Regions from separate parts of the Homo sapiens genome. Here region 1 is linked to region 2. The links come from fine-mapping of genetic effects on gene expression. Tissue or cell type: sun-exposed skin. Region 2 holds a variant in brackets; the other region holds the start of a gene. All regions are shown on one strand. Distances are from middle to middle.

What was found. PIP is the estimated chance that this variant, and not a neighbour inherited with it, causes the effect.
Region 1: it holds the start of RWDD2A, and the variant in region 2 is the best candidate, but not a certain one, in a credible set for the expression of RWDD2A in sun-exposed skin (GTEx, PIP 0.52).

Annotation. Positions count from the first base shown.
Region 1 is chr6:83,190,976-83,195,217 of GRCh38, forward strand. It overlaps RWDD2A (RWD domain containing 2A), which reads left to right and starts at 2,382. Exons shown (of 3, transcript NM_033411.5): 1 at 2,382-2,468; 2 at 3,337-3,677. The coding sequence starts at 3,477. It overlaps PGM3 (phosphoglucomutase 3), which reads right to left and starts at 2,290. Exons shown (of 13, transcript NM_015599.3): 1 at 2,204-2,290; 2 at 1-39. The coding sequence starts at 37. RefSeq lists silencers at 1,941-2,010, 2,311-2,680 and an enhancer at 2,253-2,752.
Region 2 is chr6:82,656,349-82,660,590 of GRCh38, forward strand. The region is part of intron 5 of LOC105377876 (a long non-coding RNA gene); the gene reads right to left. Among named protein-coding and RNA genes, the nearest start is that of TPBG, 290 kb to the left of the region's middle. The variant G/T (reference allele first, on the strand shown) is at 2,657.

The sequences.
Region 1 (4,242 bases), 530 kb after region 2:
GTAATGCTGAGTATTTTGTAATAGCACCTAAATCCATGTCTACAAAATTAAGAAATATTGTTTCGGGCATAACAAGTAATTTCTTAAGAACCATTTGCTTCAAAAACTGCCACCCCAAACGAATAGGTCTGTCTCATCCTGAACCTCCTCAAAGAACCCTATGTTTGACAGAGCAATGGGCAGGAGAGTAAGTCCTGTGGGTTAGAATTACCTACAAGATGTTGTCCAACTTGGTATGTCCACTCCTGGGCAGACTCAGGGCAGATAGCAGATTGTCCCCACTCTCCTCCCATTTTAGCTCCAGGACTATCCTGGACGCCGGGCACACTTAAATTGGTCCACTCTCAACTAAAATGAAGATTTTACACCTATTCAGAGACTCCAATGAGCTCAAAGATCATTTCATTTTACAAAAAGGGAAACTAACCTAAATTAACATAGATAGCTGGTGACGGATTGAGGCCTAAAGTCAGATTCTTGAGTGGACTGAAACTACATATCCCCAAATATCTGAGAAATCTTTGTGGTTCTTTTGCTATTTCTCCCAAACTACAGAGACATATTCTTAAAGGAAAAGCAAAAGGCAACAGTTTCTTCTCCAAGACTACCCAGATCTTTTTCCATTTGCTAAAAACAATCAGGACACCCTTCTAAGATGTTGCTCTAAAACTAGCAATATCTTCTTCTGAAAGAATGCCACCTTTTTCCTTTACTTTTAAAAATAAAACATCGGCCGGGAGCGGTGGCTCACGCCAGTAATCTTAGCACTTTGAGAGGCCAAGGCAGGCGGATCACCTGAGGTCAGGAGTTTGAAACCAGCCTGGCCAACATGGCGAAACCGCCTCTCTATTAAAAATACAAAAAAATTAGTCGGGCGTGTTAGCTGGCGCCTGTAATCCCAGCTACTCGGGAGGCAGAGGTTGCAGTGAGCCGAGATCGCGCCACTGCACTCCAGCCTGGGTGACAAAGGGAGACTCGGTCTCAAAAAAAAAAAAAAAAAAAAAAAACAGGCCAGGTGAGGTGGCTCAGGCCTGTAATCCCGGCATTTTGGGAGGCCAAGGCGGGCGGATCACGAGGTCAGGAATTCAAGACCAGCCTGACCAACATGGTGAGACCCTTGTCTCTACTAAAAATACAAAAAGTAGCCTGGCGTGGTGGTGCGCGCCTGTAGTCCCAGCTACTCAGGAGGCTGACGCAGGAGAATCGCTTGAACCCGCGGGTGGAGGTCGCAGTGAGCCGAGATCGCGCCACTGCACTCCAGGCTGGGCGACAGGGTGAGACTCCGTCTCAAAACAAACAACAACAAAAAATCGGCCCTTAGCCCACTAATACTGTTTTCTCTGGGATACTCCCATTAAGTGGAACTTGGGGTTTCCAACCTCAGTCAGTAGTTTTCCTTCAGTAGTCCATATACTACATTTCCTGGGTCAATTAATTCCCAATTAGCCCAGAGATGAGGAGCAGTCCGCCAGCTGCTAGCCTCATAATTTTGTTTTCTTTATTGTCCTTCATTGCTTCAATGAACAGAACTTGCAAGAAATGGTGAAAAATACTTGCTTTTGTCCAGTTGGAAAAAGCTGGCATTCAGTAAACTAATTTAGTTCAAGACAGTGATCAGATCTCTTTCCTAAGGATGAATACATATTTGTAAAAACTGAGCAGTCAGTTATGTGTCATGATTATTCATAAGAGTGTAAACCAGTCCTGTTAACTCCAAAAAGCCATTAAAAAAAAAAAGGTCCAGATAATATGAGTTCATCCTTTCATGCGTTTTAGGCCCTACAACTACTTTCAATGCCTCTGCGAATGCCTTTATTGAAAGCATATTTGCCAAATCCAGCGTCCACGCAAAAAGTTAAGAGTATCCCCCTACTCTCCATTCAATCTTCAAATCTCCTTGGTGCCTCTCTCCCGCCTACCCTCGAATCACCGCACAAGGGTGATTCCCGGCACTCCACCCTGAGGTCCCCGCCTAGGTCCACGTACCAGAGCCCCGGCAGGAGACCCGCGGCCCGTCCCGACCAGCCCGCCCGCGGGGCGCAGGGGCCTGTAGGTGTGTCCCGCGCGCTCCGCCGCTCGGTCAGTCGCCCGCCAGACCACTAGCCCCTCCGTCGGGCCGAGAATCTGACCTGTCCCGCTCCCACCGAGCCCTTGCCGACCGGTAGTCTCCCTTCTCAACTCCGAGCCTCGGGGCCCGGCTTACCTCGGTCAGGAAGCCCCCTTCACCTACACGCAGCGGAGAAGCGCCCAAGCAACAACGTCTGCACCCAAACCCAGTCCTCAGAACCGCAGACGTGGCCCTGCGTGGCTTCCGGCTCGTCGCCACGCCCCCTGGCCAATCACGGCAGAGGACTATCCGCCAGCCCCGCCCCCGCCTCGCCGCAGGTCGCGCGCAGCTGGCGCCTGAGGAACTGCGGCTGCGGTTCCGAGCGGGGTCTGGGGCTGTTACCATTGAGTGACCAGAAAGGGTGAGGCCCCCGCGGTGGCCCGGGGGTTGGGGCCGAGGGTCGCGGGCCCTCAGAGCACTGCGGCCGCGGAGGCACAGCCTCCGCCTCCAAATCCGGGCCTCTGGGGGCGGCAGGCCCTGCGTTCCTGGGAAGCCGGGGTTCCTAGTGGTCTTGGCTAGGGGCGGGGGTGGGGAATCAGCCCCGTCGCTGGGCCTCGGACAGGGCGACCTCGCCCACAGTGAGCGCCGCCGGCGGCCCGCATCCCCCTCTCCGACGTCGAGGTCATCTCCCAAACCTTTGAATCTGGGAAGCCTTCTCCGGCTGCCGTCTCCCCGGGTACCCCCTTCCCCCAGCTCACTGTAAACATCTTTTATTTAATGACCTCTGAGACACCCCCTACCCTTATCCTGGGTCCCTCGGGGCAGAGGCCAGTGAATCGTAAACGTCCGGAGCCCTGGAATGCGGCCCAAGCGAAAAGGCCACCGCGGTGTTGGGGGGGGGCGGTCCGCGAGTCCAGGACCGAGGGGTGGCGACTGGCGCTGGGGAACTCGGAGCCCATCCTGCTGGCACTGCGGCCTCTCTCGCCGCAGCGTCTGGCTCCGCCCAAGCCCGAGCCCCGGGTGGGATTGGAAGCCGGGCCCCAGCCTTTCCCAGAATTCAGGCTTGCAGAGCGTCTGCAGGTGTCTGCCTGCCACCTGCAGCGGGACAGTTCCAAACACCTGTTGAAAGTGCAGATTCCCCTATCTAGTGCGGGGTGCGGGAGGCGGGAACCCGGAGCCCGGGTACGCAGAATATGGGTTTTTACGGAGTGTTTTAGAGGATGTTGTGCATACTAGATTTTGGAGTCAGGAAATAAAGAAGAGTGCAAGTGTCTGGTTTGTGCCCCTAGCTCTCGGTGCAAAGCGTTCCTGCAGAATTGCTTCCACGTAAAGGGACCTTCGGGAAATTTCGCTGGATACCGGCTGGCATTGACAAACCCAGCGTCCCTGAGCCTTGTGAGGTTTCCAGGCAGGCTGATTGCGAGGCAACATGTCTGCTTCGGTGAAAGAAAGCCTTCAGCTTCAGCTACTGGAGATGGAAATGCTGTTTTCTATGTTTCCTAACCAAGGAGAAGTAAAACTTGAAGATGTAAATGCCCTGACGAATATAAAGAGGTATTTGGAAGGCACAAGGGAGGCGCTGCCACCAAAAATCGAATTTGTAATTACACTCCAGATTGAAGAGCCCAAGGTAGGTACCCTGATTTAAGTGTTTGCCAGGTGCCCAGTTTTTAATTGAAACATCTAGAACATGAGCTTTCTGTCAAGGAAAGATAGAAATATTCCAGGTGCATATTTCCTTGTTTGAAAGATACGGAATGCTCTATAAATTGTCTTCAGTAAATATCTTTAATTTTATGTAAACATATACACCTTTTTAACAAATATACCTGGAGTTTTTATTGACGCTATCTTGCAGTCTTATGCCATTATTATTTTGTTCACCCATCCAGTTGGACTACCTTTCACATGTATCATGATTTTCATAAATCTAAATATCTCCTGTAACATAACTGTCTTTTAAGGAGTGAATGAGTGGATTTTTTGATGGCACCATAACACAGAAAGCAAATATGGATGGAAAAATCTAAAGACTAAAAATGAATTTACCTCCATCTTCTGATCCATTTATCTCCAGCAACATTAGCATAGCATAGGTAATACGTGGACTGGGCATTTGAGAACCACTGTTGTAGCTATTTCCTACTCATCCTTCAGTTGTTATTCCCTCAGAGGAGACTTTCTGGTTCTCCAGA
Region 2 (4,242 bases):
TGCTGTGAGCCAGGCATTTTACTAGTTCTCAGGATTACAAAGACAAAAAAGATACGGCCCCTCCCCTAAGCAGGTCATACGATGTGAGAAAAAGTAGAAATAATCACAATAATAGTATATTTTTATAGTTTATATAATATTATGACCCCCATTTCATTGAGAAATATCCAAGGAGCTTAAACCAATTATGTTGTTTTTCCCCTCACAGCAGGTGGACGGCAAAAGTCAGAAGATCATCTAAGACTATAGGAGAGGGAAAACCCATCATAGTTGGGCTGAGTAATTTTGACTCAAGTTATAAAGTTGGATACTGATGTCACTCCCTGTTCATCAAGTATCATCTAAGGAATATAAAAAGACTTTGTTCAAGCACATATGCCCTGCTATTTTTCCTGGAATTTCTGTCATTAAAATCACTCTGAAGCAACATAACCATAAACCTTTGACAATTTTACCTGAAAAGGATAATTACTCAAAAAGTCATTTTTACATCATGATAAATAACCTTACCAAATACATGATAGGTAAGTTTTATTAACCTAAGAAAAGGATAAATGACATATTTTTAGCTCTTCTTCTCAAATTACCACCAACAAGATGTCCCACCACATCCTCCAGGTGAACATTTTAAAATCCAAGTCATCATCTCCACCAAACCTTTCTACCCCAACCACCCACACCAACCTTCTCCACCCAATTTCTCCCTCACTAATGTTGCCATTTTTCTCTCAGTCAGTCATATAAGCTTAAAATCTTAAAGCTAACTTTGATCCCTTTTTTTTGTCTCCACTGCTCAAGATCTATGGACACACTCTAGCATATCTCTTTCTCTCTCTCTTTTAAAATTGTGATAAAATATGCATAACATAAAATTTATCATCTTAACCACTAGAAGTGTACAGTTCAATATTGTTAAGTATGTGCAACCAATCTCCAAAACTATTTTCATGTTGTGAAACTCTAGACCCTTTAAACAACCCCACATTTTGTCCTCACTCCAGCCTGTCAACCACCATTCTATGTTCTGTCTCTATGCATTTGACCATTCTATAGGTACCTCATATCAATGAAAAACACAATATTTGCCTTTTTCTGACTGGCTTATTTTGCTTAGCTTAATGTCCTCAAGGTTCCTCCAAGTTGTAGCATGTGTTAGGGTTTCCTTCCTTTTTAAGGCTGAAAAAATATTTCACTGTGTGTATACACCACATTTTGTTTATCCATTTATCTATCAATGGACAGTTGGGTTGCTTCCACCGTTGGGCTATTGTGAATAATGCTGCTGTGAACATGGGAATACAAATATTTCTTAGAAACTCTCCTTTCAGTTCTTTTGGGTATATACCAAAAAGTAGAATTGCCAAATCATATAGTAACTCTATTTTTAATTTTCTGAGGGACACCATACTATTTTCTATAGTCTACCAAGCCCTTCCCTCATTCCTTTGCCCATGACCTCTGCCTTCCCAGCCACATTAACTCCACCTGCTGAAACACTCTCACCTCTTAGAAACAATTTCACTTGGTACTGGCATTGCATAGTCAAAATGCTCCCTCCAAATTCGAATGTCTATCAGCCTATGATTCATCTTCATAGCTCTTATGCATCCATGTATGTGTCCTCGGAAACATGCATGTGCAATGTCTTCTTTGCTACAGTGAAAAGCCTTAAAGGCAGGGAAGTGAACTATTTTATTTGCTGCTAAAACTCCAGCACTCTACATTGCTAGGCATACAATAAACAGGGAAGAATTGATTATCTTTAAAGTTGAAGGCTTCATATTTTCCTAAATATGACTTCTACTCTCACTTTTGAAATTACAAACTCTTAGAATTGAATCAAGTTTATAAATGATCCTTCCAGAGATTCTCTGAGAGCTCTTTATTTGAGGCTTTAATTTTCTAGTTTGACTGTCTGTAATGATCAGATCGAAGAGATAATGGCTAAATAGCTGCTTCTCTTGGGGCAATATAGAACCAGTCATCACTGGATCTCATATTGGACTTTCTGCAATTAGCTCTCTTTCCTTTAGTTACAATCATTGTCTTCCAAATGCTGTATGCTAAGAAATAAATAATGAATATCTAATATTGTAGGAGTCTCACAGTAACAGATTCGAGGAACAGATTCAGTAGGTCTAGTATTACTATGTCAGTGAGAAATTTAAAGCTTGCCTCCTTTTTAATTGGTTTATTATTGTTTTCCTTCTCTATTGGACAGATTATAATAAAAGAATCATGACTTTTGCCAAGGAGAGATGACATAAAAATAAGTTAAGACAGGAGAGAATTCTACATGCATGGTACAATTTTAAAATAAAATTATAATACATAATAAAACACAAAATGAGTTGCAGCTGTGGTCTGAAAATCTTAAATAAGTCATCGAAGAGAAAATTGACTAATAAACAATCTCCCACACACTAACAAATCAGTGTACATATGCAAATAAAATTAACTCATGCTATAAAAGGCTAAAAAGAAATCCATAAAACATGTTGTAAGCTGCCATTTTTCCAGAATCGTTGGAGGAGAGAGGCAAAGAGTGGTCAGGTCCTGTTAAGCCTGGGTTGGGGAGGATAAGATCACGAAGTGAGGAAGAGGAAGGTGGGAGCAAAACCAGGAAGTGACAAAAGAGCATTGAACGCTTGGTTCT[G/T]AGAATTATAAGTTTTTCTGGCTGCCTTGATACATCTTACCGGGCCAGAAGCAGCATCTTAAAGAGCCAAACCATGCTGCACATGCCTATCTTTTATCTCCTATTTGTAAGCTGAGACCTGTGTATTAGATTCATGTTTGTACACACTAACAAAGAACTAGCACACCATAAAACATTTAGTGCATGCTTAAGACATTTTTAAAGAGTGAAATACTATATCTTACAGTCTATGTTAAATTATTAACTAAGATTTTTCTGTGATTTATAACCAGGGTCTTCATATATTTCACTTTACCTGGAACGTCCCAGTTAACACTACAGTCCAAGCATAGTTCTCTCTTTCACTCTCGAAAGTGCTCAGGTTTGGAAGATAAATTTCATGATGAATCAATATAGTCATCTAGTTTATGGCAGTCTGAAAGTTGATTTCTAGAATTCTCTGTCGTCAACTTGTTTACTGGCCATTGTCTCTTCCTCATCAAAACAGAATAGATTATGCAAGTTAACACTGAAAAGACTATAACTCTGGATTCCAGATAAACAAATTTAGTTATGATTCTAACATTAGCAGTTTTTTATAGAAAAATCATTTTCTAAAGTCAAAGAATATTTAAAGCAACATAACATTTTATATAATTAATTTCTTCCCAATATGAATGTATAGCAGAAATGTTAGTACCTTCAACCTTCTGGCATATCATTAAATATAGGGCAACAGCCATACTGAAAATGAATTCACTCCATATATGTGTTTATGTGTGTGTATACATATGTGTGTATTTGGGAGAATGGAAACATTTCTGATGCTCCCAGGAACATAAGAGACTTTGGGTTATGGTTGCCGTACTTGGCAATGACTTCATTGTTGGATTTGTATAAAAAGATAAATGAGGGGCAATTTTTATCTTTTGTAGAAAAATTTTTTAATTGCTTCAATGTATCTTACTATGGCTGCTTCTAGCATGTGCCATGTGGTTTGTAGGAATTAGGAAAAAGTCACCTCTTTGGATGGACCCTGTAGAAAAAGGAGTTTTCCTTTCTCCATGCTGGACCAGGGCTAGATCATAGGCTGGATTGAACCCCTTTTCACTGAGAGGGGTGGCCCTGATTGTAAAACTAATTTTTTCTACCTTACAAAATAGATACAGTCCCATAAAGACTGCCTGTGAAGGAAATCACCATATTTTACATCCTACTTTTTCACTAGAATTTTTCAAAGGTGTCCATCTAAGAGGGGGATAAAAGCACCCTTTATAATGCATGATAGTGGTAGAGGGAAGCAGGTGGATTCTATTTTAGTCTGCAGAGAAGCTTTGGAAATCTCAAAGTTTAAAGAAACGTAACAAACACTTGATAAAAATCTTAAATCTACAATTCAAATAAGTAAAAATCTATGAATTAAAAATAGCTAGAATGCTTTTATTTTGAGGATTTTATTGCCAAAGACCAAAAGATTAAAAGAACAGATCAAACTGAGCTTAAAAGTCCCTGGTTTTTAATTAAACTTCTAAAATACTAGAACATGCAAACATGCTGTTCTCTTATATGAATATCAGATAGATAATCATCATGATGACGACAACGAT